Homo sapiens: one gene and its partners. The protein of the gene in region 1 interacts with the protein of each later gene in a pairwise test. Each region holds a gene or a part of one and is shown in the gene's direction. Other genes may lie near its edges. The genes, in order: THRA, SYAP1, TACC1 and RGN.

Region 1 (7,404 bases):
CTACTAAAAATACCAAAATTGGCCAGGTGTAGTGATGTACGCCTGTAATCCCACCTACTTGGGAGGCTGAGGCAGGAGAATCTCTTGAACTTGGGAGATGGAGGTTACAGTGAGAGTGGAGATTAAGTCAGTGTACTCCAGCCTGGGTGACAGAGCGACAGAGTGATACTCTGTCTCAAAATAAAAAAAAAAAGAAACAGAATGATTTATATGTTAAAGGCCAGGTATAGTAGCTCACGCCTGTAATCCAAACACTTTAGGAGGCCAAGGTGGGAGGATTGCTTGAGCCCAGGAGTTTAAGAACAGCCTGGGCAACATAGTGAGACCCTGTCCATACAAAAAAATTTTTAAAGTAGCCAGGCATGGTGGTGCACACACACCTGTGGTCCCAGCTACTCAGGCAGCTGAGGTAGGACGATCACTTGAGGCTGGGAGGTCGAAGCTGCTGTGAGCTGTGATTAAGCCATTGCACTCCAGCCTGGGCGACAGAACAAGACCCTGTCTTAAAAACAAAAAACAAACAAAAAAAAAAAACGGAAAAAAAGTTTAAGGCTTGAAGTTTCTCTCTCTTTCTTGATGTCAACCAAACCAAGACCATGAGGGATTTAGAGTTCCCTAGCAGAAGCAATACAATCCTTCTGGAAGCAATACAAACAGTGTAGCATAGAGAAAGGATCTTTTACTCTCACGGACATCTGAGTCCCAGGGAAGCACCCTGAAAAGACAGAGATGCCTTGGCCCCACCCTTGGATAGTTTTATTTTGTAGTTCTGGAGTGAGGCCCAGGAATCTGTATCTTTGGTAGGTGCCTTTGGTGACTTTTTTTTTTTTTTTTTTTTTTCAAGACGGAGTCTCACTCTGTCACCCAGGCTGGAGTGCAGTGGCGCGATCTTGGCTCACTGCAACCTCTGCCTCCCAGGTTCAAGCACTTGTCCTGCCTCAGCCTCCTGAGTAGCTGGGATTACAGGTGCCTGCCACCTCACCTGGCTAATTTTTTGTATTTTTAGTAGAGACAAGGTTTCACGATGTTGGCCACGTTGGTCTTGAACTCCTGACCTCGTGATCCACCCACCTCAGCCTCCCAAAGAGCTGGGATTACAGGCGTGAGCCACCGCACTCGGCTGCCTTTGGTGATTTTAATGCCCCTGGAATCTGAGAGCTCAGACGTTGGTGTCCCATACCTGAGGCCCAGTTCTGACTCTGCTGCCCACCGGCCACATGACTTTGGGCAAATTGCTTCATCTCACCAAGCTTCAGTTTCCTTGTCTGCAAAGTGGAGGCAGTAACAGTTCCTACCTCATAGGGTTGTCTGGAGGGTTCACTGTGATGTTCCATGAAAGACAAGGCTTATCTTTTGGGTTTTTGTTTTTGTTTGTAATGGGGTCTCTGTCACCCAGGTTGGAGTGCAGTGGTGCGATCATAGCTCACTGCAGCCTTGACCTCCTGGTCTCAAGCAATCCTAAGCAATCCTCCCACCTCAGCCTCCAGAGTAGCTGGGATTATAGGTGCACGCCACAACCCCTGGCCAATTTGTGTATTTTTAGTAGAGATGGGGTTTTGCTATGTTGGACAGGCTGGTCTTGATCTTGAACTCCTGGCCTCAAGTGATCTGCCTGCCTCAGCCTCCCAGAGTGCTGGGATTACAGGTGTGAGTCATTGCACCTGGCCAGCAAGGCTTATGTTTACTAAGTGACTGACACATTGTAAACATGAAAAAATACTAATTCTTCATATTATTGCAATCATCTTGAGTTTTGAGGTGTTTCCTTTAAAATAAAGGCGAGGCTGGGTGCGGTGGCTCACGCCTGTAATCCCAGCACTTTGGGAGGCCGAGGTGGGCAGATCACCTGAGGTCAGGAGTTCGAGACCAGCCTGGCCAACATGGTGAAACCCCATCTCTATAAAAATACAAAAATTAGCCGGGCGTAATGGTGGGCACCTGTAGTCCCAGCTACTCGGGAGGCTGAGGCAGGAGAATTGCTTGTACCTGGGAGGTGGAGGTTGCAGTAAGCTGAGATCACACCACTGCACTCCAGCCTGGGTGACAGAGTGAAACTTCATCTCAAAAAGAAAAAAAAAATTAAATTAAAAAAATAAAATAAAGGTGAATCCCAATGTAGAGAATTGAAATTTTTCTCTTCCCCTACTAGAGTTCATACTCAGTCCCTTTCCTTGACTTTTTTGGTTCCCCTGTTTTATGAATTCCACCTGCATGGACAACAGGCAACATATATGAGAATGGTTTTTGGGTCAGTGTTGTTTTTAAAGTCATTTAGCAAAATGGAAAATGAGGTTTTACTTGGATTTCCTTTTTTTTTTTTTTTTTTTTTTTTGAGACAGAGTTTTGCTCTTGTTGCCCAGACTAGAGTGCAATGGCACAATCTTGGCTCACCGCAACCTCTGCTTCCTGGGTTCAAGCAATTCTTCTGCCTCAGCCTCCCAAGTAGCTGGGATTACAGGCATGTGCCACCATTCCCGGCTAATTTTTTCTTTTTTTTTTCTTTTTTGAGATGAAGTCTCACTCTTGTCACCCAGGCTGGAGTGCAATGCGAGCTCCACCTCCTGGGTTCAAGCGATTCTCCTGCCTCAGCCTCCCGAGTAGCTGGGATTACAGGGGCAGGCCCAGCTAATTTTTATATTTTTAGTAGAGATGGGGTTTCACCATGTTGGCCAGGCTGGTCTTGAACTCCTGACTTCAGGCAGTCTGCCCGCCTGGGCCTCCCAAAGTGCTGGGATTACAGGCATGAGCCACCGCGCCCGGCCAAGGGGTGGACCCCGCCGTGGTTCCACCGCGGCTCAAACCTAGGACCTTCTGCATGTAAAGCAGATGTGATAACTGCTACACTATAGAATCGCATGCTTTTTTTTTTTTTTTTTTTTTTTTTTGAGATGGAGTCTCATTCTGTCACCCAGGCTGGAATGCAGTGGCGCGATCTTGGCTCACTGCAACCTCTGTGTCCTGGGTTCAAGCAATTCTCTGCCTCAGCCTCCTGAGTAGCTGGGATTACAGGCGCCCACCACCACGCCCGGGTAATTTTTTTTTTTTTTATACGGAGTCTTGCTCTGTCACCCAGCCTGGAGTGCAGTGGCGCGATCTTGGCTCGTGGCAAGCTCCACCTCCTGGGTTCACGCCATTCTCCTGCCTCAGCCTCCCGAGTAGCTGGGACTACAGCGCCCACCACCATGCCCGGCTATTTTTTTTGTATTTTTAGTAGAGACAGGGTTTCACCGTGTTAGCCAGGATGGTCTCGATCTCCTGACCTTGTGATCCGCCTGCCTCAGCCTCCCAAAGTGCTGGGATTACAGGCATAAGCCACCGCGCCCGGCCTACGCCCAATTTTTATACTTTTAGTAGAGACAGGGTTTCACCATGTTGGCCAGGGTGATCTTGAACTCCTGACCTCATGATTCATCCGCCTTGGCCTCCCAAAGTTCTGGGATTATAGGCATGAGCCACTGCACCCAACCTCATGCCCGGCTAATTTTCTATTTTTAGTAGAGACAGGGTTTCTTCATGTTGGTCAGGCTGGTCTCGAACTCCCGACCTCAGTTGATCTGCCCACCTCGGCCTCCCAAAGTGTTGGGATTACATGCGTGCGCCACCGCGCCCGGCGACTTGGATTTCCAAAGCTGCTATTCCTTAAGGCCTCACATTATCCCAGGTTCAAAGCTGCCTGCTCTAGACATCATTCCTGCCTCTGCCACAAACACTACCCAGACACCCCCAACCCCTCAGCAGCCTGGGGGCTGAGGGCATATATTTCTCAGGTCCTTGAGCCTAGTAATCTTGGGCTCATGGTGTCAGGAGGATGCCAGGTCCCCTCACTGATCTTGCCTTCCTTGCTCTCCACCCCTGACCCCTAGTAAACTGCATGGTTGGTTCAGGAAGGGGAAGCCATGTCATGATCACAGCCTGCTCCATCTCCCCCACCCCAGGGCTTCTTTCGCCGCACAATCCAGAAGAACCTCCATCCCACCTATTCCTGCAAATATGACAGCTGCTGTGTCATTGACAAGATCACCCGCAATCAGTGCCAGCTGTGCCGCTTCAAGAAGTGCATCGCCGTGGGCATGGCCATGGACTGTAAGGGGCCCAGGTGGAGGGAATAGAGCCAGGTGGCCTGGGGTGGGGATGAGTTCTGGGAGGGCAGCTTCCTTCCAGGGTACCCTCAGAGCCCACAGGGCAGAGTGGCAATCCAGTCTAGGTCAGAATGTTCAGTGTCTTGGTCCTTGCTGTCCTCCTTCCTGCGCAAAAGGAAACAGGATCCCTGTGTGGGCCCCAATGCCTACCTGCCTTACAACACTCGAGGGCCTTAGAGAGGGAGTCGTTTGGTAGAAAGAGCTCCTGGGCACCCACTCTAGCACACTGTTCTTGACTCCCAGCGAAGGCACCCCACTTCTAGATGAGACAGGGCATCTTCCATTGGCTGGGGATTGGGTGGCAGGATATTCGAGTAACCACCGTCACCATAATCCGTTAGACCAGAACATGATATTCATCTGGATCAGCCCAAACTGTTGTTGACATGGTCCCGGGGATTAATCATGATCCGGGTTGTGCTGCCCAACTGCTAGGTGATTTGGGAAGTCATTTAGCCTCCATGGCCCTCGGTTTCTCCAACCTGTACTCTAGGAAGAGTAGTTTCCGGGAGCATTATGGAAAGGGGATGGAGGGTGCCATGCGTTAGACCTTGTGCCTCTCTGTTCACAGTGGTTCTAGATGACTCGAAGCGGGTGGCCAAGCGTAAGCTGATTGAGCAGAACCGGGAGCGGCGGCGGAAGGAGGAGATGATCCGATCACTGCAGCAGCGACCAGAGCCCACTCCTGAAGAGTGGGATCTGATCCACATTGCCACAGAGGCCCATCGCAGCACCAATGCCCAGGGCAGCCATTGGAAACAGAGGCGGAAATTCCTGGTAAGGAGAAAGGGGGCATGGGGAGAGCAGTAGCCAGGTGGCAGGGAGAAGAGAGTGAGCTCGGAGTCTTGCCTCCTCCAGGAAGTCTTCTTAGTGTAATCCAACCCAAAATACATACTCTTCACACTTTTGCTGTCCAGATTTTATACACTTGTGTTTGTGTCCTTGCTGTCTGGACTGTCTACTCCATCCAACTGGGAGCTCAATGAGGACAGGGCCTTGCCTTCCTCATCGAATTTCCAGGGAGCGGGAGCGACCTTTCTTCTTTTTCCTGCCCTTAGTGACTGGGAGGAGAGGGTAAGGATACAGTTATGTCACAGTATTTTTGAGCACCTGCTGGGTGCCAGGCATTATGTTAGGCCCTGGTCAAGCTAGTTGCTAAGTAAATGATGAGTTTGGGACCAGGTGCAGTGGCTCATGCCTGTAATCCCAGCAATTTGTGAGACCAAGGTGGGAGGATCGCTTGAGCCCAGGAGTTTGAGACCAGTCTGGGTAACATACAGAGATCCCACCTCTATGAATAATTTTTTTTTTTTTTGATACGGAGTCTCACTCTCACCCAGGCTAGAGTGCAGTGGCACGATCTCGGCTCACCGCAACCTCCGCCTCCTGGGTTCAAGCGATTCTCCCGCCTCCGTCTCCCGAGTAGTTGGGATTACAGGCACTGGCCACCATGCCTGGCTAATTTTTGTGTTTTTAGTAGAGACAGGGTTTCACCATGTTGACCAGGCTGGTCTCGAACTCCTGACCTCAAGTGATCCACCCGCCTCGGCCTCCCAAAGTGCTGTGATTACAAGATGTGAGCCACCATGCCCACCCTCTATGAATAATTTTTTTTTTTTTTTGAGTTGGAGTTTCGCTCTTGTTGTCCAGGCTGGAGTGCAGTGGCACAGTCTTGGCTCACCGCAACCTCTACCTCCCGGCTTCAAGCGATTCTCCTGCCTCAGCTTCCCAAATAGCTGGGATTACAGGCGTGCGCCACCACGCCCGGCTAATTTTGTATTTTTAGTAGAGACGGTGTTTCTCCATGTTGGTCAGGCTTGTCTGAACTCGCAACCTCAGGTGATCTGCCTGCCTTGGCCTCCCAAAGTGCTGGGATTACAGGTGTGAGCTACTGCTCCCGGCCTCTCTACGAATAATTTTAAAATTAGCTGGGCATGGGGGTGTGTGCCTGTGGTCCCAGCTACTCGGGAGGCTGAGGCAGGAGGATCCCCTAAGCCTGGGAGGTCGAGGCTGCAGTAAGCCATGATTACACCGCTGCACTCCAGCCCAGGCAACAGAGCAAGACCCTCTCTCAAAAAATATGATCAGTTTGGGAGGAGATGGACAGTTGGCTATACGTGGTGAAGGAAGGCAGAAAACCAGCACCTGGTTCATGGTGGAGCATGCCGGGGGGTGGCACAGTGCACACTGTTAAGGGCACGGGCTCTGATTCCAAGCAGATGTGTAACAGTCACGAGTCAGACTGCCCAAGTTCAAACCCTGGTCCTACCACTTGCTGGTCATATGACTTTAACCTTATTATTTAGCTGCCCCATGCCTCAGTTTCCACATCTGTGAAATGGTGATTATTATAATTATTCCTTTTAGGATTATGGTCAGGATGAAATAAGACATGTAAAACATGTAGCCTGATGCCTGATCATATATTAAGTATTCAGTCATTATAGCTGCTACTACTGTTACTACCGTTGTTATTATTAGCTGACTTGGAGCTCTGGTTCTGGTCTATTCTCTGCTCAAGATGAAGGAAAAGCTTTGGGCCTGGGACTCAGGCACGGGCGGCCCCTCTTCCCCAAGCTGCCTTGGAGCTCCCCCTGGTGGGCAGGGAGCCTCAGTGAGAGGCTGAAAGGGGTCTGCGGCCCCAGCTGACCCCCGTCTTTCTCTCTAGCCCGATGACATTGGCCAGTCACCCATTGTCTCCATGCCGGACGGAGACAAGGTGGACCTGGAAGCCTTCAGCGAGTTTACCAAGATCATCACCCCGGCCATCACCCGTGTGGTGGACTTTGCCAAAAAACTGCCCATGTTCTCCGAGGTGAGTGGCAGAAGTGGGGAGAGATGTGATGCTGTGCTGGAGGGAAACCTGCTCCCCCGGTCACCCAGTACAGGCTCATCTGAGGTTCTCTGGACAAGGAGCAATTCCTGTAGGTCAACATACACAGATAACATACACAGACACACACACACACATGCATACACATACACCCAGCACACAGGCACACATGCAGACACATACACGGACACACACACACACCTAGCATACAGATACGTACACAGACACACATACACACACACATACACCCAGCACACAGACACACACACACCTAGTACACAAACACACACACAGATACATAGAAACACACACAGACATATACACCCAGCACACAGACACACACACACACACAGACACACACCCAGCACACAGGCACACACACACACACACCTAGCACACAGCCACACAGATACATAGACACACACACACAGA
Region 2 (8,344 bases), on another chromosome or scaffold:
TGGGCATCACTGGCCTTGGGTTTAGTGCCCACAAGGCTGGTATGTTGGACATCGAGGGTCCCAAAAGGATGGCAGGAGGTGGAGGAGTCAATCGAGGTCAAGGAACTTTAGAGAATTGGGGTTGCGGGGTGGGTAGTGAGCCTGAAACTAATAGATGACTGTGACAAGGAAAGGGAGAAGGTTGCAGAACAAATGTCAGTGCCTTTCAAGACACAATGGAGGCCTGGCGCCATGGCACACCCCTGTAATCCCAGCACTTTGAGAGGCTGAGGCAGGCAGATAGTTTGAGTCCAGGAGTTGGTGACTTACCTGGACAACATGGCAAAATCCTGTCTCTACAAAAAATACAAAAATTATCACGTGTGCTGGCATGCATCCCAGGGGAGGCTGAAGCAGGAAGGTCGCCTGAGCCCAGGAGGTCAAGGCTGCAATGAGCTATGACCGTGCCACTGCACTCCAGCCTGGACGACAGACTGAGACCTTGTCTCAAAAAAAAAATCAATTAATTAATTTAAAAAAATAAACACGACCAGGCATGGTGGCTCACCCCTGTAATCCCAGCACTTTGGGAGGCCGAGGTGGGTGGATCACGAGATCAGGAGATCGAGACCATCCTGGTTAACACGGTGAAACCCCGTCTCTGCTAAAAATACAAAAAATTAGCCGGCCGCGGTGGCGGGTGCCTGTAGTCCCAGCTACTCAGGAGGCTGAAGCAGGAGAATCTCTTGAACCCGGGAGGTGGAGGTTGCAGTGAGCCCAGATCGCGCCATTGCACTCCAGCCTGGGCGACAAGAGCGAAACTCCATCTCAAAAAATAAAATAAAATAAACACAATGGAGTTTCTCCCCACCAAGGATGAAAGAACAGTGTTGTGGAGGAAGCAGTAAGGAACTTGGAACAATGATGTCAATTTCTGGGAAAATAAGCAGACGCTTCACTCAGCAGGGTAGCCTTGGGGGAGATCCAGGTCTCCATGGGTGTTGGGGGGTCCAGGGGAGGGACAAGGAACCACCTTGTCAAAAGGCTAGAGGCATAAACAAGTCTTCCAGAGGGCTCAGGGGAAAGAATGTTTGTGAAATGGGTTGGTATGGGTGCTAATACTTAATACCTGCCGCATATGTAAGGTTTCCTTCCACAGTTCCGTCTTTCATTATCTTTTTAGAACCAGGACAGTTGTTATGATCCCCTTTTTAGAATGAGGGACCTGAGGTTCAGAGATGTGAAATGTCTTGACCAAGGGTACGTTAGTTAATATGAGTGGCAAAGCCAGGACATCAATGCACAGCCAGACTCCACCACAGGATGTGAGGCCTGATCCAATTGTCCTATTCTATTCATCCATGAGGCTAATGGATAAAAGATAATCTGTATATACAAAGGGCTCATTATAATAACTATTGTATTATTAATCTCAAATGGGAAAAATAATGAGCTGGAAAACAAATTTGATAACAGGGTGTGGATTGACTGAATTGTGTGGGATAAGGATGTATCCTCATTCAACAAGTGTCAGTTCATGGCCCACCACCAGCATAACATCTTGCTGAATCCGCACAAGATGATTTTTTTTTTTTTTTTTTGAGGTGGGGATTCATTCTTGTCGCCCAGGCTGGAGTGCAATGGCATGATCCCAGCTCACTGCAACCTCCACCTCCCGGGTTCAAGTGATTCTCCTGCCTCAGCCTCCTGAGTAGCTGGGATTACAGGCGCCCACCACCACGCCCGACTAATTTTTGTATTTTTAGTAGAGACAGGGTTTTACCATGTTGGCCAGGCTGGTCTCGAACTCCTGACCTCAGGTGATCCACCTGCCTCGGCCTCTCAAAGTTCTGGGATTACAGGCATGAGCCACCGTGCCTGGCCAGATGATTTTTTTAAAATGAAAATGAAGCCCATCATTAAGTTGATTGCTTATGTTCTTGTTTTGTAATCTTTTTTTTTTTTCTTTTTTTCAGTCGGGGTCTCGCTCTATCACCCAGGCTGGAGTGCAGTGGCACGATCACAGCTCACTGCAGCCTCCAGCTCCCAGGCTCAAGCAATCCCCCTGCCTCAGCCTCCTGAGTAGCTGAGACGACAGGTGCAAGCCACTACACCCAGCTCATTTTTTATTTTTTGTATAGACAGGGTCTCGTTATGTTGCCCAGGCTGGTCTCAAACTTCTAGACTCAAGCAATCCTCCCACCTCGGCCTCACAAAGTGCTGGGATTACAGGCATGAGCCACTGTGCCCAGCCTAATCTCTTATTTTTAAGAATTCTACCTTTCAGAAGAGTTGTAAAACTGTCTATCCCTTGGTGACCACAGTGTTCACCACGATTTTGAGTGTACCTTAAGATAAAGCAGAGTAAGGCTGAAAGGGCTGGGCCCTATCTCTGCTGTGGGAAGGACCAGCACTATACTTCTTTTGCAAGTGAGGGAACTTGAGGGGCAAAAGGATGAGTAAAACGTCAAGTTTAGGCCGGGTGCGGTGGCTCACTCCTGTAATCCCAGCACTTTGGGAGGCCAAGGTGGGTGGATCACCTGAGATCAGGAGTTCGAGACCAGCCTGGCCAACATGGTGAAACCCCGTCTCTACTAAAAATACAAAATTAGCCAGGTGTGGTGGCAGGTGCCTGTAATTCCAGCTATTTGGGAGGCTGAGGCAGGAGAATTGCTTGAACCCAGGAGGCAGAGGATACAGTGAGTCGAGATTGTGCCACTGCACTTCAGCCTGGGCAAGACAGAGTGAGACTCCGTCTAAAAAAAAAAAAAAAGTCAAGTTTATTCACCTACTAGATGGTGGAATTAGAAGCCCATCCTAGGCTTCTCACTCAAATTCCAGGCTCTGTTCAATCATACTTGAAGCAAATATCCTATTCCCGAAAGTCTCAACCACTTTCAGGTTCTCATTGACTTAATAAAGCCTAGAAAGGCATTGATCCTAAGACATCTCCTGACTTCAAAGCTGAATCAATACTTGGACTCTAAAAACAGGCTGGAATGTCATCAATGCCACTGAACTGTACACTAAAAAAAATTTATTTTTACTTCAATTTAAAATATTAATAGTGTAATACACCAAAAATATATACCATTGAATTGTACACTTTAAACAGGTGAATTGTTTAAATCTCAGCTGTTTGGGGGAAAGAAAAAAACAGGTTGGGCTTGATAACCTAAAATCCTGGACCTGAATAAAATATAAATATAAGTCAGGCTGGAAAACTGGACAGCAGGGAAATCAGAGTTGTAATCAATTCCTCATGTATTCCCTCAGGTCACCGGAACTGTCCTCCTCTTCTCAAAATAGTTGGGGAGCAAGGAATCATGGATGTCCTTCCACAATTAATGACTGAAGACTGTGCTTGGGAAATGTGTCCATGAACTCCCTGCTCTGAAGGGGTAGTTATGCACATCACTAGTTTTTTGTTAGTTTTACATGTTATTGTGGGAAAAGTTAAAAATATAAAAAAGACAAATGTTTAACTACCCAGCTTCAACCCATGGCCAGGCTTGTTTCATCTATATCCCCCCCCATTCCCCCCACCCCCATCCTGTATTAATTTGAAGCAAATTCCAGACGTGGCATCATTTCTTTTTTTCTTTTTCTTTTTTTTTTTTTTGAGACGGAGTTTTGCTCTTGTCATCCAGGCTGGAGGGCAATGGCAGGATCTCAGCTCACTGCAACCTCCGCCTCCTGAGTTCAAGTGATTCTCCTGCCTCGGCCTCTCGAGTAGCTGGGATTACAGGCGCCCGCCAGCACACCCAGCTAATTTTTTGTATTTTTAGTACAAACGGGGTTTCACCATGTTGGTCAGGCTAGTCTCAAACTCCTAACCTCAGGTGATCCACCCATCTCGGTCTCCCAAAGCGCTGGGATTACAGGCGTGAGCCACTGCGCCTGGCCCAGATATGGTATCATTTCTTTGGTAAAATCTCAATATGTGCGGTGGATAAACAGATGGATAAACAAAACGTGGTGTATACATACAAGGGAATACTATTCACTCTTAAAAAGAAATTGACACAGCCTTGAGGACATTATACTAAGTGAAAGAAGCCAGTTACAGACAAATACTGAATGATTCCACTTATATTAAGGTATCTAGTCAGATCCATAGAGACAAGAAGTAGAATGGGGGGAGGAGGGGGATGACAAGGACAGGAATGGGGAGTTGTTTCATAGGTAGTTTCAGTTTTGCAAGATGAAGTTCTATTTTTCTTTTTTCTTTTTTTTTTTTTTTTGAGAATGGACTCTGCAACCTCTGCCTCCCGAGTTCACGCCATTCTCCTGCCTCAGCCTCCCTAGTAGCTGGGACTACAGGCGCCCGCCACCACGCCCGGCTAATTTTTTTCTATTTTCAGTAGAGACGGGGTTTCACCGTGTTAGCCAGGATGGTCTCGAACTCCTGACCTTGTGATCCTCCCGCCTCGGCCTTCCAAAGTGCTGGGATTACAGGCGTGAGCCACCGCACTCGGACTATTTTTCATTCTTTTAATTGCAAGATGAAGAGTTCTGAAGATTGATTGCTCAACAATGTAAATGTACTTAACAGTACTGAATTGTACACTTAGAAACGGTTAAGATGGTAAATCATATTAAGATGGTAAATTTTGTGTATTTTACCACAATTAAAATTTTGTAATTTCACAATTCCTTAATTTTATCAACTACCCAGTGTCCAAATTTCCAGTTCTTATAATAAGTATCATACTATTTTTTTCAATGTGTTTGCTGAATTAGGATCCTAATAAAATGCACAAGGGGCCATGTGTTACATCTCTTAAGTCTTTTTTAATCTATAGGTTCCCCACCACACTCCTCTCTTCCTTGCAATTTATTTGAAGAAACAAGGTTGTCTGTCCTGTGGCTTCTCATAGTCTAGATTCTGCTGACAGCATCCCATTGTGTTGTTTAACACCTTATTCTGTCCTCTTATTCCCTGTTGGGCTTGGCGGCTTTGGGTTAGTTTTGAATTGGGCTCAGGAGGAGGCTAAAGACATCCAATTCTGCGGGAACGCAGCCCTGCGGGACCTGAAAAGGCGAGACTAAGTCACCAGCCAAGCTGCCTAGAGGCAATCTTAAAATGGGACTGGCTAGGACTGTGACAAAGACACCGTCCACATGCCTACTAGGTCAGTCACCTACAAAGCTGGCGAATGAGGAAAAGAGGGAAGGCAGGGCTACGCTGGGAAAGCTCTTTGTCCCCTATCCACGCGCACAAAACAGTTGTCACAACTGACGTCACCAGGGGCGGAGCCTTTGGACGGAAGTGACGCTTGCGCGGCCGCGGCGGAGTCGTCATAGAGGCGGGGCTGCGGCGGCTGCGGTGTTCCTCCGACTTCCGGACATCTCCCTGGGAGTCGCGCAGAGTGGAGTCAAAGGCAACCAGTGCTCGCTGCGGTCTCTGGGGATCGGGACCGCGGCGGCGGCCCGCGAGCGGGATGTTCCGGGGCTTGAGCAGTTGGTTGGGCTTGCAGCAGCCGGTGGCAGGCGGTGGGCAGCCCAATGGAGATGCTCCACCCGAGCAGCCGTCCGAGACGGTGGCTGAGTCTGCGGAGGAGGAGCTGCAGCAAGCGGGAGACCAGGAGCTCCTCCACCAGGCCAAAGACTTCGGCAGTGAGTCTACCCTGGCTCTGGGACCGGGAAGGGGGGGGCGCATTCCTCCTCTGGGACGGCCCTGGGGCGCGGGCCCGACTGGCTGGGGGATGAGGGGGCCGAGGTGGGAGGCAGGGGAGGAAGATGTGTCTGTCGGTCAGTCCTCTCCGGGTCGGGAGAGATTGGTGAGGATCTGGACGAGGCCAGAGCTTCATCTAGCAGTCAGGTCCTGTCCCTGAAGTTCCTGGTGACAAGTCTACAAAGTTTGCAGACATTGGAATCAGGTATGCAGTCAAGCAGTGTGACCCGACGTCTTCAGGTTTGACAAGGAATCTTTTTTGTTCAACTCGAAAACCTTCATTTACACCCCCCAGATCGGGGATAGTTGGCGAGCTTGAATTGGTTGAAAAAATAATTTTTTGCCCCTAGGTCAGAACGTGTTGTCTGAAGTAAACTGACAGTTACTGAATGTCAATGTCTGCCCCGGTCAAATGCTTTTTAGGTACAGAGACCTTTTTCCTTAAGGAGGGAGAGAAAATGCCAACTGTCTGCTATACGCAAGTTGCAGTACTAGATGTTTTATGAAAGATATCCCATTTCATCTGTTAAACACCCCCAGTGAGTTGGGGGAACAAGCCCAGAGTTATTGGGCCAAAGTTATACTGATAGTGAGTGGTAGAAGTGGAATTTGAGCTTCGATCTTTCTCATTTTAAAGCCCGTGCTCTTTCCAAGTTTACAGTCTACAGGGGTTGGGGGACAGGTGATAATAGACGTGGAGTAAACACATGCTGTAGTAATTCTCATTTCTGGAGAGACCATGGTGGGCTTCAGTGATCACAGAAAGCATCTTTGAGGCCGGATATGGTGGCTCAGGCCTGTAATCCCAGCACTTTGAGAGGCTGAGGTGGGCGGATCATGAGGTCAGCAGTTCGAGACCAGCCTGGCCAACACGATGTAACCCCGTCTCTACTAAAAATACAAAAAATAGCCGGGCGTGGTGGCGGGCACCTGTAATCCCAGCTACTCAGGAGGCTGAGGCAGGAGAATCGCTTGAACTGGGGAGGTGGAAGTTGCAGTGAGCTGAGATCGCACCACTGCACTCCAGCCTGGGTGACAGAGCAAGACTCCATCTCAAAAAAACAAAACAAAACAAAACAAAAAAGCATCTTTGAGGAGGTGAGCCCTAAAGCAGCCCAGCACTACAAGTGAGAGAACTGCAACAAAGGTAGATACTAAGTTCAGCAACATTTGAAGAATCTACTAAAAGATGGGGGTGGGGGGATGGGGGTGGAGACAGGGATGTGGGAGGAGAGCAGCCTGAGAGTAGATAAACACATATTTGAGTAAGAAAGGGCCGAACAGTTTTTCTGGAGACAGGGTCTCACTCTGTCGCCCAGGCTGGAGTGCAGTGGCACGATGTTGGCTCACTGCAACCTCCACCTCCAGGGTTCAAGTGATCTTCCTACCTTATCCTCTCCAGTAGCTTGGATTACAGGCATGCCCTACCACGCCCAGCTAATTTTTGTATTTTTAGTAGAGATGGGGTTTCGCGATGTTGGGCAGGCTGGGCCCTAACGTTTAAAAGTTTACTGTGGGATGAAAGGACAGGGAAAACAGACATAATCTCAAACCATGACAGTGTATAATCTCAGCCCAAGGCCCCCAGATAGAATAGTCTTGCTCTGTCGCCCAGGCTGGAGTGCAATGGCACGATCTCGGCTCATTGCAACCTCCACCTCCTGGGTTCAAGCAATTCTCCTGCCTCAGCCTCCTGAGTAGCTGGGACTACAGGCACACGCTGCCACACCTGGCTAATTTTTTTTTTTTTTGTATTTTTAATGGAGACAGTGTTTCACCATGTTGGTCAGGCTGGTCTCAAACTCCTGATCTCAAGTGATTCACCCACCTTGGCCTCAAAGTGGTGGGATTACAGGCGTGAGCCACCGTGCCTGGCCCCTCTGAATATTTTCTAATAACTGCATTTTTCATATGGATGTGTACTTTGGAGCTAATGCTGCCATCTTTCTGCTCACCAGATTCTCTTTTGATATTTACGGAAGCTGAGGTTAGATGGAAGTACCCACAAACACACACACATTGTGAATTTAAAGCTTCAGAATAAATGAGAATTCTTTCTTTTCTGAAATTTATGTGATTTTAGAAAGTCGTAAAGGTTCTAGTTCATATACAAACTGTGAGAGACAAGAGAGATGATCAGATATTTTTTATTTCTACATATTGATCCTAAGAAGTATATTGTCTTTAAGAAGACCCATTTATGTTTTGAAAACTGGAATTAAACATCTGTGAGCCTGACTCCCAGAGTAGATTCATTTCTTAAGTCTTTTGAAATCTACATAAAATATCAGCCGGGTGCGGTGGCTCACGCCTATAATCCCAGCAGCTTTGGGAGGCCAAGGCAGGCAGATCACGAGGTCAGGAGATCGAGACCAGCCTGACCAACGTGGTGAAACCCTGTCCCTACTAAAAATACAAAAATTAGCTGGGCGTGGTGGTGCGCGCCTATAATCCCAGCTACTCAAGAGGCTGAGGCGGGAGAATCGCTTGAACCCGGGAGGCGGAGGTTGCAGTGAGCCGAGATCGCGCCACTGCACTCCAGTGTAGGTGACAAAGTGAGACTGCATCTCACAAAAAAAAAAAAAAAAATCTCCTGGGAGCCCCATTTGTTCTGCATATATTTGTTGAGTGCCTACCTTCAAGACTGGACACTAAATACTTCCTGGTTCCTGGTGACCTATTTATACA
Region 3 (7,404 bases), on another chromosome or scaffold:
AGGCTGCAGTGAGCCATGATCAGGCCACTGCACTCCAGCCTGGGTAACAGAGACACTGTGTCAAGAAAAACAAAAATAAAAACTATAGCTATGATATTCCAGTGGTACTTGACTCTGATCCTGGATTAGGATTAGGAAGTAGGATTAGAGGGTCATCTTTTAATTTCCTTTAAAATCATGAGATATTATAACCAATTCACTGAGTTTTTCTGTGCTACTCTTGTTTCAGATATCTACGTTAGGAAATCACTTTTTGCTTTAACGAAATTACCTCATTCACACCTTCCTAATATTTGCAGCACTTATCCTAGTAAGACCACAATTAAAAAGGATTTTTATTTTTCACAAGTGATTTAGAGAATTCCTGGTCCGACTTAGAGACAGAGGTTCTAAAGAAAAAATAACTTTATTGTTTTACAATTTGTGTCTTAGTAAAATAAGGGCTATTTGTTTTAAAGCCATTTCCATATCTGGTTTTTCAAATTAGCTTTCTTATTTGGTTCTTTTAGTTTTTAGGTCTACAGAGAGATGATTCTGAGCTGGTCACAGTAGATTTTTTAAATTTATTTTTGAAACAGTCTTTTTAAATTCTGTTCTGTGGATACATGGCTTTTTTTTTTTCTTCTTTTTTTTTTCTTTGAGACAGAGTCTAGGCTGGAATGCAGTGGCGCAATCTCGGCTCACTGCAGCCTCCATCTCCCGGGTTCAAGTGATTCTCCTGCCTCAGCCTCCTGAGTGACTGGGACTACAGGCGTGTGCCACCATGTCTAGCTAATTTTTGTATTTTTAGTAGAGATGGGGTTTCACCATGTTGGCCAGGATGGTCTCAATCTCTTGACCTCATGATGTGCCCGTCTTGGCCTCCCAAGATACTTATGTTTTTAACATTCAAAGATTCAGATCTGTTCACTGCATAAAGTTCTGACCCTGAAGCTGTCAGGCTGTGCTTAGGAACTGTCTCAGCACCAATCTGCCTCCCTGCACCATAGCTGTTGGTTTCTAAATACTCCTCCAGACCAGTTTTACCCTACAGAATGTTAACATCACATAATAATACATTGCAGCAGACTCTTGCTCTATTTATCCTTTTTCTAAATAGCTCTTTTGGTGTACTTACTATTCGTATCACTTGGATAATGCACATACACAACTTGGGATAGGAAAATTCATTTTAGGGTGTTGTGCCAGCTCTTCTCTTTCAGGCTGTGCTGCCATCCTTCCTGAACTTTAGAGATGCTTAATAAAAGCAAAGAGGGAAGAACTTGCTATTTGTTTATATGAATTCAGGTAAGAGAGGATACTTACCAGTGACAGATAATTCTTTAATAGATGGTTTTTGTGTTTCATTTTAGAATCACAAGAAGCTGATGAACAGCTTGTAGCAGAAGTGGTTGAAAAATGTTCATCTAAGACTTGTTCTAAACCTTCAGAAAATGAAGTGCCACAGCAGGCCATTGACTCTCACTCAGTCAAGAATTTCAGAGAAGAACCTGAACATGATTTTAGCAAAATTTCCATCGTGAGGCCATTTTCAATAGAAACGAAGGATTCCACGGATATCTCGGCAGTCCTCGGAACAAAAGCAGCTCATGGCTGTGTAACTGCAGTCTCAGGCAAGGCTCTGCCTTCCAGCCCGCCAGACGCCCTCCAGGACGAGGCGATGACAGAAGGCAGCATGGGGGTCACCCTCGAGGCCTCCGCAGAAGCTGATCTAAAAGCTGGCAACTCCTGTCCAGAGCTTGTGCCCAGCAGAAGAAGCAAGCTGAGAAAGCCCAAGCCTGTCCCCCTGAGGAAGAAAGCAATTGGAGGAGAGTTCTCAGACACCAACGCTGCTGTGGAGGGCACACCTCTCCCCAAGGCATCCTATCACTTCAGTCCTGAAGAGTTGGATGAGAACACAAGTCCTTTGCTAGGAGATGCCAGGTTCCAGAAGTCTCCCCCTGACCTTAAAGAAACTCCCGGCACTCTCAGTAGTGACACCAACGACTCAGGGGTTGAGCTGGGGGAGGAGTCGAGGAGCTCACCTCTCAAGCTTGAGTTTGATTTCACAGAAGATACAGGAAACATAGAGGCCAGGAAAGCCCTTCCAAGGAAGCTTGGCAGGAAACTGGGTAGCACACTGACTCCCAAGATACAAAAAGATGGCATCAGTAAGTCAGCAGGTTTAGAACAGCCTACAGACCCAGTGGCACGAGACGGGCCTCTCTCCCAAACATCTTCCAAGCCAGATCCTAGTCAGTGGGAAAGCCCCAGCTTCAACCCCTTTGGGAGCCACTCTGTTCTGCAGAACTCCCCACCCCTCTCTTCTGAGGGCTCCTACCACTTTGACCCAGATAACTTTGACGAATCCATGGATCCCTTTAAACCAACTACGACCTTAACAAGCAGTGACTTTTGTTCTCCCACTGGTAATCACGTTAATGAAATCTTAGAATCACCCAAGAAGGCAAAGTCGCGTTTAATAACGTGAGTGACAGTGGGCGCTGGGTGTCGTGCTCTGTGTCTTGTCTGTTGAGTTTGGCAGCCAGCTACTTTTGGCTTTGGTGAACTGAATTTACCTTTGAGGTGCACCGAGGTTCATACAAAGCTTATAATGTTATCCTGCAGTCTTCACTGTTTGGCTTAACTGTTGTGTGGAATCAGAAATACCAGAGGTTTCCTTTTCAGATTGTTGTCTTTTTTCTGAATCCTTAGCTTAATCAGCTAAGCTCTTTTCCCTTGACCCTAGAGACTTTTTTATGTTTAAAAAAAATAGACCAGTCACGGTGGCTCACACCTGTAATCCCAGCACTTTGGGAGGCCGAGGCAGGTGGATCACTTGAGGTCCAGAGTTTGAGACCAGTCTGACCAACATGGTGAAACCTGTCTCTACTAAAAATGCAAAAATTAGCTGGGCGTGGTGGTGCACACCTGTAGTCCCAGCCACCCGGGAGGCTGAGACATGAGAATTGCTTGAACCCAGGAGGCAGAGGTTGCAGTGAGCCGAGATCACGCCGCTGCTCTCCAGCCTGGGTGACAGCAAGACTCCATCTCAAAAAAAAAAAAAGAATGGCATGAGATAGACAGGTAGAGATTTGATGGTTTTCAGAAATCCTGGCTGGACTGTTAGGAGTCGTGTTATAGACAATTCAAATGTCACTGCTGGCCACCGTCTTCATACTCTATGGATAAAACAGAAATTCCAGTCCTGTAACTTACCTCTGTAGCGTCAATAACGTGGGAAATGATCCAAAAGGGTCTTGTAGAAAGAAGACTTTTTACATAAACAGAAAGCTGTGATTTTTGTGGGAAACAAACCTACCACTAAAATTGATGAGAATTCTTGTCTCCATGTGTAATTTCTGGCTCATCAGCCAGGAGGTAAAATTTCAATAAGAATCAAGAATATTTTAAATGATCAGTTAAAACTGAGTAAATTAGTTGGTTTAGTCAATCCCCCATCTCTCCTGGGAAATTATCTGACTTTTGCAAGGTCCTTGGTGTTTTCAGTGTAATTACCTAAGGTCCTATTCCATATCAAGTTTCAGTTTAACTTTGCTACAGGATTACTTTATCACAAAACTTGAGTAGATGATAATACAATCATACATCACTTAGCCACAGGGTAAGCCACAGGGAAATGCATCCTTAGGTGATTTTGTTGTGTGAACATCGTCAAGTGAACTTACTCAAACCTAGGTGGTGAAACCTACTACACACCTAGGCTATATGGTACAGCCTGTTACTCCTAGGCTACAACCCTGTACAGCACATTATTGTACTGAATAGGTGCTAGGTGTGGTGGCTTACACCTGTAATCCCAACACTTTGGGAGGCCAAGGTGGGAGGATCCCTTGAGGCCAGGAGTTCAAGACCAGCCTGGGCAACATAGTGAGACACCCCCCCACACACACCGATTCCCTGTCTCTTAAAAAAATTTTTTTTAATTAGCTGGGAGTGGTGGTGCATGCCTGTAGACCCAGCTACTCAGGAGGTTGAGGCAGGAGGATTGCTTGAGCCCAGGAGGTTGAGGTTGCTGTGAGCCATGATTATGCCATTGTACTCCAGCCTGGCTGGCAGAGCAAGACCCTGTCTTTAAAAAAAAAAAAAAAAAAAAACTACTATAGGCAGTGTAACACAATGGTAAGTATTTGTGTATCTAAACATATCTAAGCATAGAAAAGGTACAGTAAAAATATAGTATAAAAGATAAAAAATAATACACCTGTATAGGGCCCTTACCATGAATGGAGCTTGCAGAACTGGAAGTTGCTCTGAGTGAGTCAGTGAGTGGTGAGTGAATGAGAAGGCCTTGGACATTACTGTACACTACTGTAGCTTCTATAAACACGGTACACTTCAGCTATGCTAAATTTATTTAAGTTTTTTTCCTTCAATAATAGATTAAGTTTAGCTTACTGTAACTTTTACTTTATCAACTTTTAAATTTTTTAAGAAGTTTTGACTCTTGTAATAAAACTTAGCTTAAAACACAAACACATGGTACAGCTATACAAAAATATTTTCTTTATATACCTATTCCATAAGTTTTCTTTGTGTAAAATTATTTATTTGTTTACTTTTTAAAATTTTTGTTAAAAACTAAGACACAGACACACACATTACCTAGGCCTACCCATTACCTAGGCCTACTCAGGATCGTCAGGACATCACTAGACAATAGTTTTTCAGTTCCATTATAACCCTACGGGACCACCATCGTATGCATGACTGAAATGTCATTACATGGCACCTGACTGTATATCCTTTTGTGGCCCTAAAAAGGGCCACATTTTACTAAAAAGTTTGAGTAAAATGTAGATATAAAGAAGGACCAATGAGATGCAGGATGAAATATGGGAGTATGAGAAGCACTGTGTTTGTACTTGTCACTGTAGATCAGTTGGGGAAATGCTTCTCAGCATTGCTATGACTTAAAGAAAAACTCCAGATATCATGGTGACTTACAGCAGAAAGGAAGACGCCCAGAGGTTTAAAGAGCAGAAGGATCAACTTCAGTACCAAGAAAGTAGAGAGATATAGGAACCAGTTCCTCAGCAGCCCCGGAATGGCTAAGGGGAGTGAAATGTCATTAGTAGCTCTCGATCTGTTCTTTGATTATATATAAGCAGTTAAATGGTTGTTGGAAAATATTATTGATTGGGTGCCCTCTTTTGTGGCTTTTAAGGTTGGTTACTCCTCTCTAGACAGCACTTAGGGTATGTACTGGGCACGTCACTGCCTAGGTACTTCCTCCCCTAAATGTGGGATGCTTCTGCATACTGAAGTTGATAAGGAGTCATTTGTGAGTCTTTGAGTTGCATGCAACCAATGCATTAAATAAGATGAAATCTGGGCCAAAGAAAGGGTAATTTATTCTACACTTTATATTCGGCAGCAAGAAGCACCGTCTCTCGAGTCCTGCCACCCTCACCCAGTAGCCTTTTTCCCCTATTCTGTTTTTGTTGAATGAACTTCTTGATCTAATACACTTAATAGGGCTTTTTTTAAGGCCTTATGCAATCAAAAATCTTGTCGTCTTGTTCTTTTTAGAAGAAAGGAGTGCTAGACCTCTTGGAAGTTTATTTTTCATCTGTAAATTTGAATTTGTGGCATTTCTGAGTGTTTCTACCAGTCTCCTTTGTAGTTGAGGTCTGTTCATCATTCACTCACTGGTGATAACATTCATGAATACGACATTTTTAATTTGTATCTCACCTCATAGAAAGAATTGTGCAGCTTTTACATCTGCCAGACTAGAGTTGAATATTCCAGTCTTTACATGATTTTTTTCTCCATCTGTCTGTCTCTTTCCTGTCTCTAATTTTGTTGGTGCATCAGGACTACTGAACAAGTGAAATTTCTCTGTTTTCTGTTGTAAGTACTCCTGCTGTTTCTTTAGTCCCTGGGACCGTTGGCAGTTTCCTCTCTCCCCTCCCCCAGCCATCTCTCCATAGCATGTTTGCTTCTAATTCTGAGTTTGATCTTCTGATGATTTTTTTGCATTTCATCAGTCACTTCATGAGTCAGCTTAGCCTTGCAGTTGTCCATACCTAAGGGAGTGGGGCTTGGCCTTTACACCTTAGGTGCTAGAGCTTGCACTCCCTGGCTTGGCAGGTGTCACGTGGCGCTTTGACAATACCAAAAGCTGGCTTGGCCCCAAGATCATCACAGCAGTGGTTTGAGGGACTGTTCTGCTATTTAATATTGGAAATCATTGGCTTTTTTGGTAGCATAAAGCTACTGGCTTGGAACAGTTAATAAATTTTACTGAGTCAGCTCAACTTGAGTTTGGTGGCAGAGGGTAGCACTCAGTAAGAAGATTAGGGAAAGAAGATCATGAACTAGTGATTATGCACATTCCGGTAACTTATGTGCTTGTCTTTGTATTTTTTCTCACAAAAGAAAAAAAGTTGCAAATAATTTTTTCTCTTTTTTTGGTCACAGTGGTGTTTTTCCTGGAAATTCTAAGTTTATTAGAACAGAATCTGAATTAGTCCTGTGATCACAAGTTGTGTGCTAATCTACAAATAACAGATGGTTCAAGCTTCCCCAGTTTCAGGCTTTGTGCAGCGTGTGACATTCATCTTCCATCTTACTACTTAATAGGAATGGTAACAGTTTACTCACATATTTTTACTTTTATACTTTTTATTGATGACAGTTCTTCTCTGTGAGCACACAAGTCTAACTGGAACTGTTTTATGAGACGTCTATGGCTTTTAGTGCAATAAAGAATTTTTAAAGAATTTGGTCCAGCGTGATGATTTTTCTAATGAATGTCAAAGCCAAGCGAGTGAGGCTCAGAGGAACTGAATGTCTCCAGCTGCTAAGGCTCTACTGTCTGCAAAGCTTTTGGTGGCGTGTAATTAAAAACCATAGACATCAGAGTGCTACTGTTTGACAACTCATAGAAGCAAGCTGAGGGGGTCTTTTCAGAGAATGAGCCCCGCTTGTAGGTCTTTGCTTACCCCGTCTCTCTGGAGAAAACTCAGAGGCATAAAAGGTGTCCCTGCCTCTCTCCTGCGGCGATGTATGATTTGTGTGGTGCTGTATGCTTTGGCTTCTATCCGCACACACTGCTGTCTGCTCCATTTCATACCTTGACAATTGTCAGTGTGATTGCAAACTGGCTTGTTTGTGTTTCTTCTCTTTCCAGGAGTGGCTGTAAGGTGAAGAAGCATGAAACTCAGTCTCTCGCCCTGGATGCATGTTCTCGGGTGAGTCTGTGCCCATCTCCAGAATGTCTCTGAGACCAGGGGTCCTCCAGTGGGAGTTTGCATCCCCCTGGCGGGTGGTTCAAAAGGACTTTCCAATGGGTACCTGAGTACTCAGCTTTAAGAAGCCAATTTCCAGATCCTTACTGTCCCTGAAGAGAAGGCCCCTGAAGACAAGGGAACCCTTTCACAATGACTCTTTTTTTTT
Region 4 (7,404 bases), on another chromosome or scaffold:
CAAAAAAGGTTTGCCGGTGGGATTCATTCACCAAGCAAGTACAGCGAGTGACCATGGGTAAGGATGAAGGCTGGACTCAGATCAGCCAGCTACCTTTTCCCAGGGGAGGGGCGGTCACCACGGCACCCTTCTTGTTAAAGCACACTGACTACACTTGTCACGCTGTCTGTCCCCACTCCATATCCTCCCACTTTGACCCAGGGTTTAATTATGGATGGTCAATACTTTCCTCTTCCTCTTTGAATGAGGGGCAACATTCCTAGTTTTTTTTTGGGGGGGGGGGTGTTTTTGTTTATTTTTTGTTTTGTTTTTGTTGAGACAGGGTCTCACCGTGTTGCCCTGGCTGGAGTGCCATGGTGTGATCACGGCTCACTGCAGCCTTGATCTCCTGGGGCTCAAGGGATCCTCCTGCCTCAGCCTCCCTAGTAGCTGTGACTACAGGTGCGTGCCACTATGTCCAGCTAGTTTGTATTTTTTGTAGAGATGGTGTTTCACCATGTTGCCCAGGCTAGTCTCAAACTCCTGGGCTCAAGAGATCCACCCACTTCGACCTCCCAAAGTGTTGGGATTACAAGCGTGAGCTACCACGCCCAGCCCATTCCCAGTTTTGTTTGGATGCTGGGGCACTCTAGTTCCTGTCTTTCCTTAATACCTTCAGATAACCATGGAAAGTTAAAGACCCAGTTATCTGCCTTGGGTCAGGCCAAGACCTTAATTTTCAAACAAAACAAAACAAAACAAAAACAGGTGCCTCTCTTCCTTGAAAGTGAAAACTAGCTTTTGGATGTATAAAGCATCAACCAGGACCGTCTTTGTTTACTGCACAAAATAGAATTCATGATGGAATTTCATGTGCATTTGAGTGTGATGCGTTTATGGCCCTGCGAATTCTAAAGAAGGGATTTATCACTTTCTATGGCCCAAGGGAATAGGCTTAATGTAATTACTGATAGAGAAAGAAGTTTCTTGTTTTCACTGAGCCCATGGGAAAAAATATCAGGAATTCCTATAATCTTGGGACATTCTTTCTCAACCCAGAACTGGGACCTCAACTTTTTTTTTTTTTTTTTTTTTTTTTGAGACAAGGTCTGGCTCTGCCACCCAGGCTGGAGTGCAATAATGCAAACATGGCTTACTACAGCCTCAATCTCCCAGGCTCAAGCGATCCTCCCACCTTAGCTTCCTGAGTAGCTGGAACCACAGGCATGTGCCACCACACCTAGCTAATTTTTATTTATTTTTTGTAGAGACAGGGTCTCCCTATATTGCCCAGGCTGGTCTTGAACTCTTGGGCTCAAGCAATCCTCCTGCCTTGGCCTCCCAAAGTGCTGAGATTACAGGTGTGGGCCACCACGCCCAGCCTTAAACTTCTTTATTTTTAAATGAAAGGGAACAAATTTTTAATTCACCCAGAAGTATGACTGTGGTAAAGTGACTGTGACCTCTGAGGGTAGAATGGGGATGGGGTCCCCTTGCCTTTTCTAGTCTCTTTTGCAGCAGACACACATGCCAACCTGTGATCTGAAAAGCCCGCCCCCACCACCACCCGCCCCCAACCCATGGAAAAAGCTGTGGTGTCAGCAGTAGCTTAGAGAGCTACCAAGAGAAGTCTCAGGCTGCAGGTTGGGATCCCCAATGAGAGTGTGTCCTACACATTCCTTGGGACCCTTGATGGCTCCAATCAAAGTGTGAGCAGGGCTTTGAGCTAAGGGTGGCTCCTGAAGCTCCCATTATCTTACACTGAAGGGGTGCTTAGGAAATGCTTTCAAAATCTATTCTGATAAATTTATTTCCTGTGACCATTCACCACAGCAATCAATCTCTCCACTTAAAAAAATAAAATAAATTTAAAAAAAAAGCTTTCTTGGCCGGGTGCAGTAGCTCATGCCTGTAATCTCAACACTTTTGGGAGGCTGAGGTGGGTGGATCACTTGAGGCCAGGAGTTCAAGACCAGCCTGACCATCATGGTGAAACCGTGTCTCTACTAAAAATACAAAAATTAGCCAGGCATGGTAGCACAGCCTGTAGTCCCAGCTACTAGGGAGGCTGAGGCAGGAGAATCCTTTGAACCTGGGAGGCGGAGGTTGCAGTGAGTCAAGATCACGACACTGCACTCCAGCCTGGGCAACAGAGCAAGACTCCATCTCAAAAAAAAAAAAAGTTTTCTTATACATGGAAAAATATTAAATGAAGAAAACCTAAAATTTAAAAACATAAAATGTAGTAATATAATGAAGAGATGTGATTGTACTATCTCTGCATCTACATTCCTATCTGTTTATTATTTTTTACCATGCTTACTTCCAAAAAAGGATCTGAGAAACAATTTGCAATTAAATACATATAAAATAGGGCCCCTTAGAAAAGACGAATCCTGGGCCTGGCGTGGTGGCTCACGCCTAATATCCCAACACTTTGTGAGGCCAAGGCGGGTGGATCACCTGAGGTCAGGAGTTCGAAATCAGCCTGGCCAACATGGTGAAACCCCATCTCTACTAAAAATACAAATAAAAATTAGCTAGGCGTGGTGCATGCCTGTAATCCCAGCTACTCAGGAGGCTGAGGCAGGAGAATTGCTTGAACCCAGGAGGCAGAGGTTGCAGTGAGTTGAGATTGCACCATTGCACTCCAGCCTGGGAAACAAGAGCAAAACTCTGTCTCAAACAAAACAAACAAAAAAAAAAATGCAAATCCTGGATTGGAGAGGGAGAGAGATGTCACAAAACCTAGTTGCTGTAAATAAACTCGGTTTGTGTCTCTGAATTTTCTGGAGCATTTTCTGGCAAAATGGGGCATCACTCGCTCTGTGATGACTGTCCTGGTGCCCCTAGATTAGAAACTCCTCCTCTGAACTGGATGTGGCACCTGCCCCATATCATGGCCACTGGGCTTTCACTTCTCTGCTTTTCCCACAAGACTGGGAGCTTCCAGAGGAGTTGGGTTTTTTTCACATTTCTATCTATTGCTGCCCAGATCAGCACACAAAATTCATACTCAACAAATGTACTAGGTTACATAGCCTTCCCTACTCAACAGAAGGAAGAGAGCGCTCCCATTGTCACGAGAGCTGGGCTCCCGCTCTAAGAGATGCCAGGTAGCACAGTGATCTCAGTGGCCTCAGCCACTAAACTGGTACTGTTTTTTAACTGTTGCTTTACCTCTACAGATGCCCCAGTCAGCTCCGTGGCTCTTCGCCAGTCGGGAGGCTATGTTGCCACCATTGGAACAAAGTTCTGTGCTTTGAACTGGAAAGAACAATCAGCAGTTGTCTTGGCCACGGTGGATAACGACAAGAAAAACAATCGCTTCAATGATGGGAAGGTGGATCCCGCCGGGAGGTACTTTGCTGGTAAGATTTCTCTTAACACCTACTTATTACTGAGCCTTGGAGGAAATACTTTGACATACAAAGTTCTCACTACTGACCAGGGTGGTGGCTCCCGCCTGTAATCCAGCACTTTGGGAGCCAAGGCGAGTAGGTCGCATGAGCCCAGGAGTTCGATAACTGCCTGGGCAACATAGTGAAACCCTGTCTCTACCAAAAATACAAAAAATTAGCTGGGCCTGGTGGCATGCATCTGTGTTCCCAGCTACTCAGGAGGCTGAGTTGGAAGGATCATCTGAGCCCAGGAGTTTGAGGCTGCAGTGAGCCAAGATCGTGCCACTGCACTCTAACCTGGGTGACAGAGTGAGACCCGGTCTCGAAAAAAGAAAGAAAGAAAGTAAGTAAGTTAGTTAGTTCTCACTACCTCAAAAGTGTTATTTATAATGAATCTTGGGTTCTTCTTTTATTATTGCCTGAGTAAGTTGTAGGACAAAAAAAAAATTCTATGATAAAATCTTCATTTGCATTTCCATCTCTAGCAGAGACTAAAATCTGTATGGTATTTTGGTGGTTTAAATGAGTTTTAAATACAGGGGTTTTGTTGTTGATGTTTAAATCAGAAATATTTTCAAATTTACAGAGAAAAATAAGAATAGTACAGGCCAGGCGTGGTGGCTCACGCCTGTAATCCCAGCACTTTGGGAAGGCCGAGGCGGGCAGATCACGAGGTCAGGAGATTTGAGACCATCCTGGCTAACACGGTGAAACCCCGTCTCTACTAAAAATACAAAAAATTAGCCGGGCGTGGTGGGCGCCTGTAGTCCCAGCTACTCGGGAGGCTGAGGCAGGAGAATGGCATGCACCTGGGAGGTGGAGCTTGCAGTAAGCTGTGGTCGCACCACTGCACTCCAGCCTGGGCAATAGAGCGAGACTCCATCTCAAAAAAAAAAAGAATAGTACAAACAACACTTGTATACCTTTTACCCGGGTTCACCTATTGCTAACATTTTGTTCCATTTGCTTTATCATTTGCTGTCTGTATATATCTAAACATCTTTATCTCCAGAGTCCTTTATTTAAAAAAAAAATAGAGATGAGATCTCACTATGTTGCCCAGGCTGGTCTCAAACTCCTGAGCTCAAGTGATCCTCACACCTCTTCCTCCCAAGTGCTGGGATTACAGGTGTGAGCCACTGCACCTGGCCTATCTCCAGAATCATGTGAGAGTAGGTTGCATGTATATCCTATGTGCCTTTACCCCTAAAATGCTGCAGTGTGAATTTCCCAAGAAAGACGACATATTCTTACATGACCACAGTTACAGTGATCAACTTAGAGAAGTTTAGCATTGACACAGTCATTTTATCTGATATACTATCTAAATCCCAGTTTTGTCAATTGTACAAAAAGTGTTCTTTCTCACATTTTTCCCTCCAGCACAGGATGCAGTCTAGGCTCATGGATTGCATTTCCTTTTCATATCTCTTTGATCTTTTTTAAAACTGGAACATTTTCATAGCTTTTTTTGTTTGTTTTTTATAACATTGCCATTTTTGAAGAATACAGCCAGGCCTACCCAACTCCCCCTTTTTTAATAGGGCATTCCTTATTTAGTATTTGTCTAGTGTTTGTTTGTGATTAAGTTGATGTTATACATTCCTGACTGGAATACCGCATAGATAATGTTCTGTTCTCAGGGTAACCCATCTGGAGGTACACGATGTCCGTGTGTCCCCTCGTTAGTGATTTTGATCACCAGGTTAAGGCCCTGTCAGATTTCTCTACTGAATAACTATTTTTAATGCAATTTATAAGCAATTTGTGGGGGTTGTTAGTTATCTATTGCTGGATAACAAATTACCCTGAAACTTAGAGGCTTAAAATAAGAAATATTTATTATCTCAGATGGTTTCTGAAGGTCAAGAATCTGGGTGCAGCTTAGCTGGATGGATCCAGTTCAGGCTATCTCATAAGACTGTAGTCAAGCTTTCCACAGGGGCTGCAGCCTCGGAAAAGGCTGGATTCTCTGCAGAGGTCTGAAAGATCCACTTCCAAGCTCATTCACATAGGGGTTGGCAGGAGGCTTCAGTTCCTTAGCTGGTGGGTCTCTCCACAGGGCTGCTCAGGACATGGCTGCCCCTAGAACCAGTGATAACAGGAGAGAGAGAGAGAGAGAGAGAGAGAGAGAGAGAGAGAGAGAGAGAGAGAAAGAGAGAGAGAACGCATGCACCCAAGATCCAAGATGCAAGCTACAGTCTTTAACCAATCGGAAGTGACATACCATCACTTATGCCATATGCTATTGGTCACACAGACAATGACAGAGGGAACTATCCAAGGGTGAGAATGCTGAAAGGTGGGAATCATTAGGGGCTATCTTGGAGGCTGGCTACAACATGGGGAGATACTCTAAGTCCACACAAATATCCTGGTCCTCATCAAAATTTCTTCCTTAAGTTTTACATTCATTGATGATTCTTTCTTGAACCAAAGTTTACTATGATGGTTGCAGAATGACTTACATGCAGGTTTAAAAGAATTTTATCTACAGTTTTAAATTAGATACTGCACTTCACATATATTTCTCATCATAATAACCTTCTGAGTTAGCCGAAGTTGATTCTCCATCTCTACTATTCCCACCTTCCCACACTGCCGCCTCACATTGTTGGCCCTGCTGTCCTGGCCCTGTGCAACTTCAATATGGAAGGCAGGAGAGGTCAGAGCAGCTGACTGTAGACTGCTTCCCATCTTCCTGGACTTTATACAACCACAGATATGGTCCGGGACAGGTTGAAAGATTAAAGATGAGAATCTGTTGGAAGCCCTTCTGCAGTAATTTCTGCAAGATAAAGATATGTGATTGGATATTTCACCTCCTGGTGAAATTGATTTTCTCTCCTTCTTTTAAGTAGAAGTTGACAGTTCTGTGCTCGCTTCAGCAGCACATCTACTAAAGTTGGAACGATAGAGAGAAGATTAGCATGGCCTCTGCACAAGGATGACATGCAAATGCATGAAGAGCTCCATATTTTTCTTACAAAGTTTACAGTTCTGAGGCACTCTGTGAGACAAAAATAAAGATGGCCTCCAAGGCCTCCATTCTAAGCATGGAGTCTCTGGGCCATCAGGAGACCTCTTAAAATTGCAGGTGTCATTGTAGGTGTAACTATTAGGTATTACTATAGTATTCTATAGTACTAATACCAATACTATAATATTATACTTATAATAATATATAGTTTTACTTTATGTATTATCATATATAATTTTAAATTATATATTATAATATAGTATTATAATTATATAAGCATATATAATATAATCATATTATATATAAATATAATTATATATTATATAATATATAATACAACTATATATATTATATTAATATATAATATTATATTATATATAATTATAATATAATACTGTAGTATTCTGGCAGATGCATAACACTAGTACACTAGTATATACCTGTTAGGTATATACTAGTGCTATGCATCTGCCAGAAGCACCTGAGACTCTTTCTCAAGAGAGGTCATAGCTCTTGGCAGGTGCTCGGAGGTGCCCCAGGCCCAGAAAAAGGTGGGGTTATCTTATAGTCTAGATGGATTCTCAAGGTGATCGCACCCTGAATATATCACCACACCCAAGATCTGACCTGTCTATGCTTGTTACTAGATAATGAAGCCAGGGCTCTAGATTATTCTATCCACCAAGGAAGAGGCTTTCCAAGCAGCAGGAGATTCACATGCATGTTCCAGGCCTCTTTTTCTGTGAGGCAGATAATGTGCAGGGAGAGTCATGAAATAAACCCAACTGCCCTAGAGCAGGAAACTGCCGAGGGAACATCCTTCTCCCCAGGGAGGGAGGATCGACCCTGTCTTGCTTGCTATTCAGGCTTCCCATCTACATTGTCTCTGGCATCTGTGCCATCTCATTTTCGGCATCTGTTGATTCTCTTCTCCTATGTGAGTTGAGATTTCCATGTTTCTTTGTGTTGCCAAGTAATCTGGGGTTGTGTTCTAGACATTTTGAATATTATGAGGCCCTGAGTCTTGTTGAAATCCTTTGGCCG

What was found.
Region 2: the proteins of THRA (region 1) and SYAP1 interact in binary tests that used the Homo sapiens proteins (3 or more experiments, as listed by UniProt).
Region 3: the proteins of THRA (region 1) and TACC1 interact in binary tests that used the Homo sapiens proteins (3 or more experiments, as listed by UniProt).
Region 4: the proteins of THRA (region 1) and RGN interact in a two-hybrid assay, tested with the Homo sapiens proteins (one study listed by BioGRID).

The regions. Positions count from the first base shown.
Region 1 is NC_000017.11:40,079,900-40,087,303, forward strand, and holds part of THRA (thyroid hormone receptor alpha), read left to right. Parts: intron 1-3,935; coding exon 3,936-4,083; intron 4,084-4,710; coding exon 4,711-4,916; intron 4,917-6,807; coding exon 6,808-6,954; intron 6,955-7,404.
Region 2 is NC_000023.11:16,714,302-16,722,645, forward strand, and holds the start of SYAP1 (synapse-associated protein 1), read left to right. Parts: upstream 1-5,310; 5' UTR 5,311-5,423; coding exon 5,424-5,598; intron 5,599-8,344.
Region 3 is NC_000008.11:38,818,170-38,825,573, forward strand, and holds part of TACC1 (transforming acidic coiled-coil-containing protein 1), read left to right. Parts: intron 1-1,352; coding exon 1,353-2,466; intron 2,467-5,820; coding exon of another isoform or gene 5,821-5,856; intron 5,857-7,138; coding exon 7,139-7,199; intron 7,200-7,404. UniProt on the Homo sapiens protein: Involved in transcription regulation induced by nuclear receptors, including in T3 thyroid hormone and all-trans retinoic acid pathways. Might promote the nuclear localization of the receptors.
Region 4 is NC_000023.11:47,081,251-47,088,654, forward strand, and holds part of RGN (regucalcin), read left to right. Parts: coding exon 1-57; intron 58-3,167; coding exon 3,168-3,350; intron 3,351-7,404. UniProt on the Homo sapiens protein: Gluconolactonase with low activity towards other sugar lactones, including gulonolactone and galactonolactone. Can also hydrolyze diisopropyl phosphorofluoridate and phenylacetate (in vitro). Calcium-binding protein.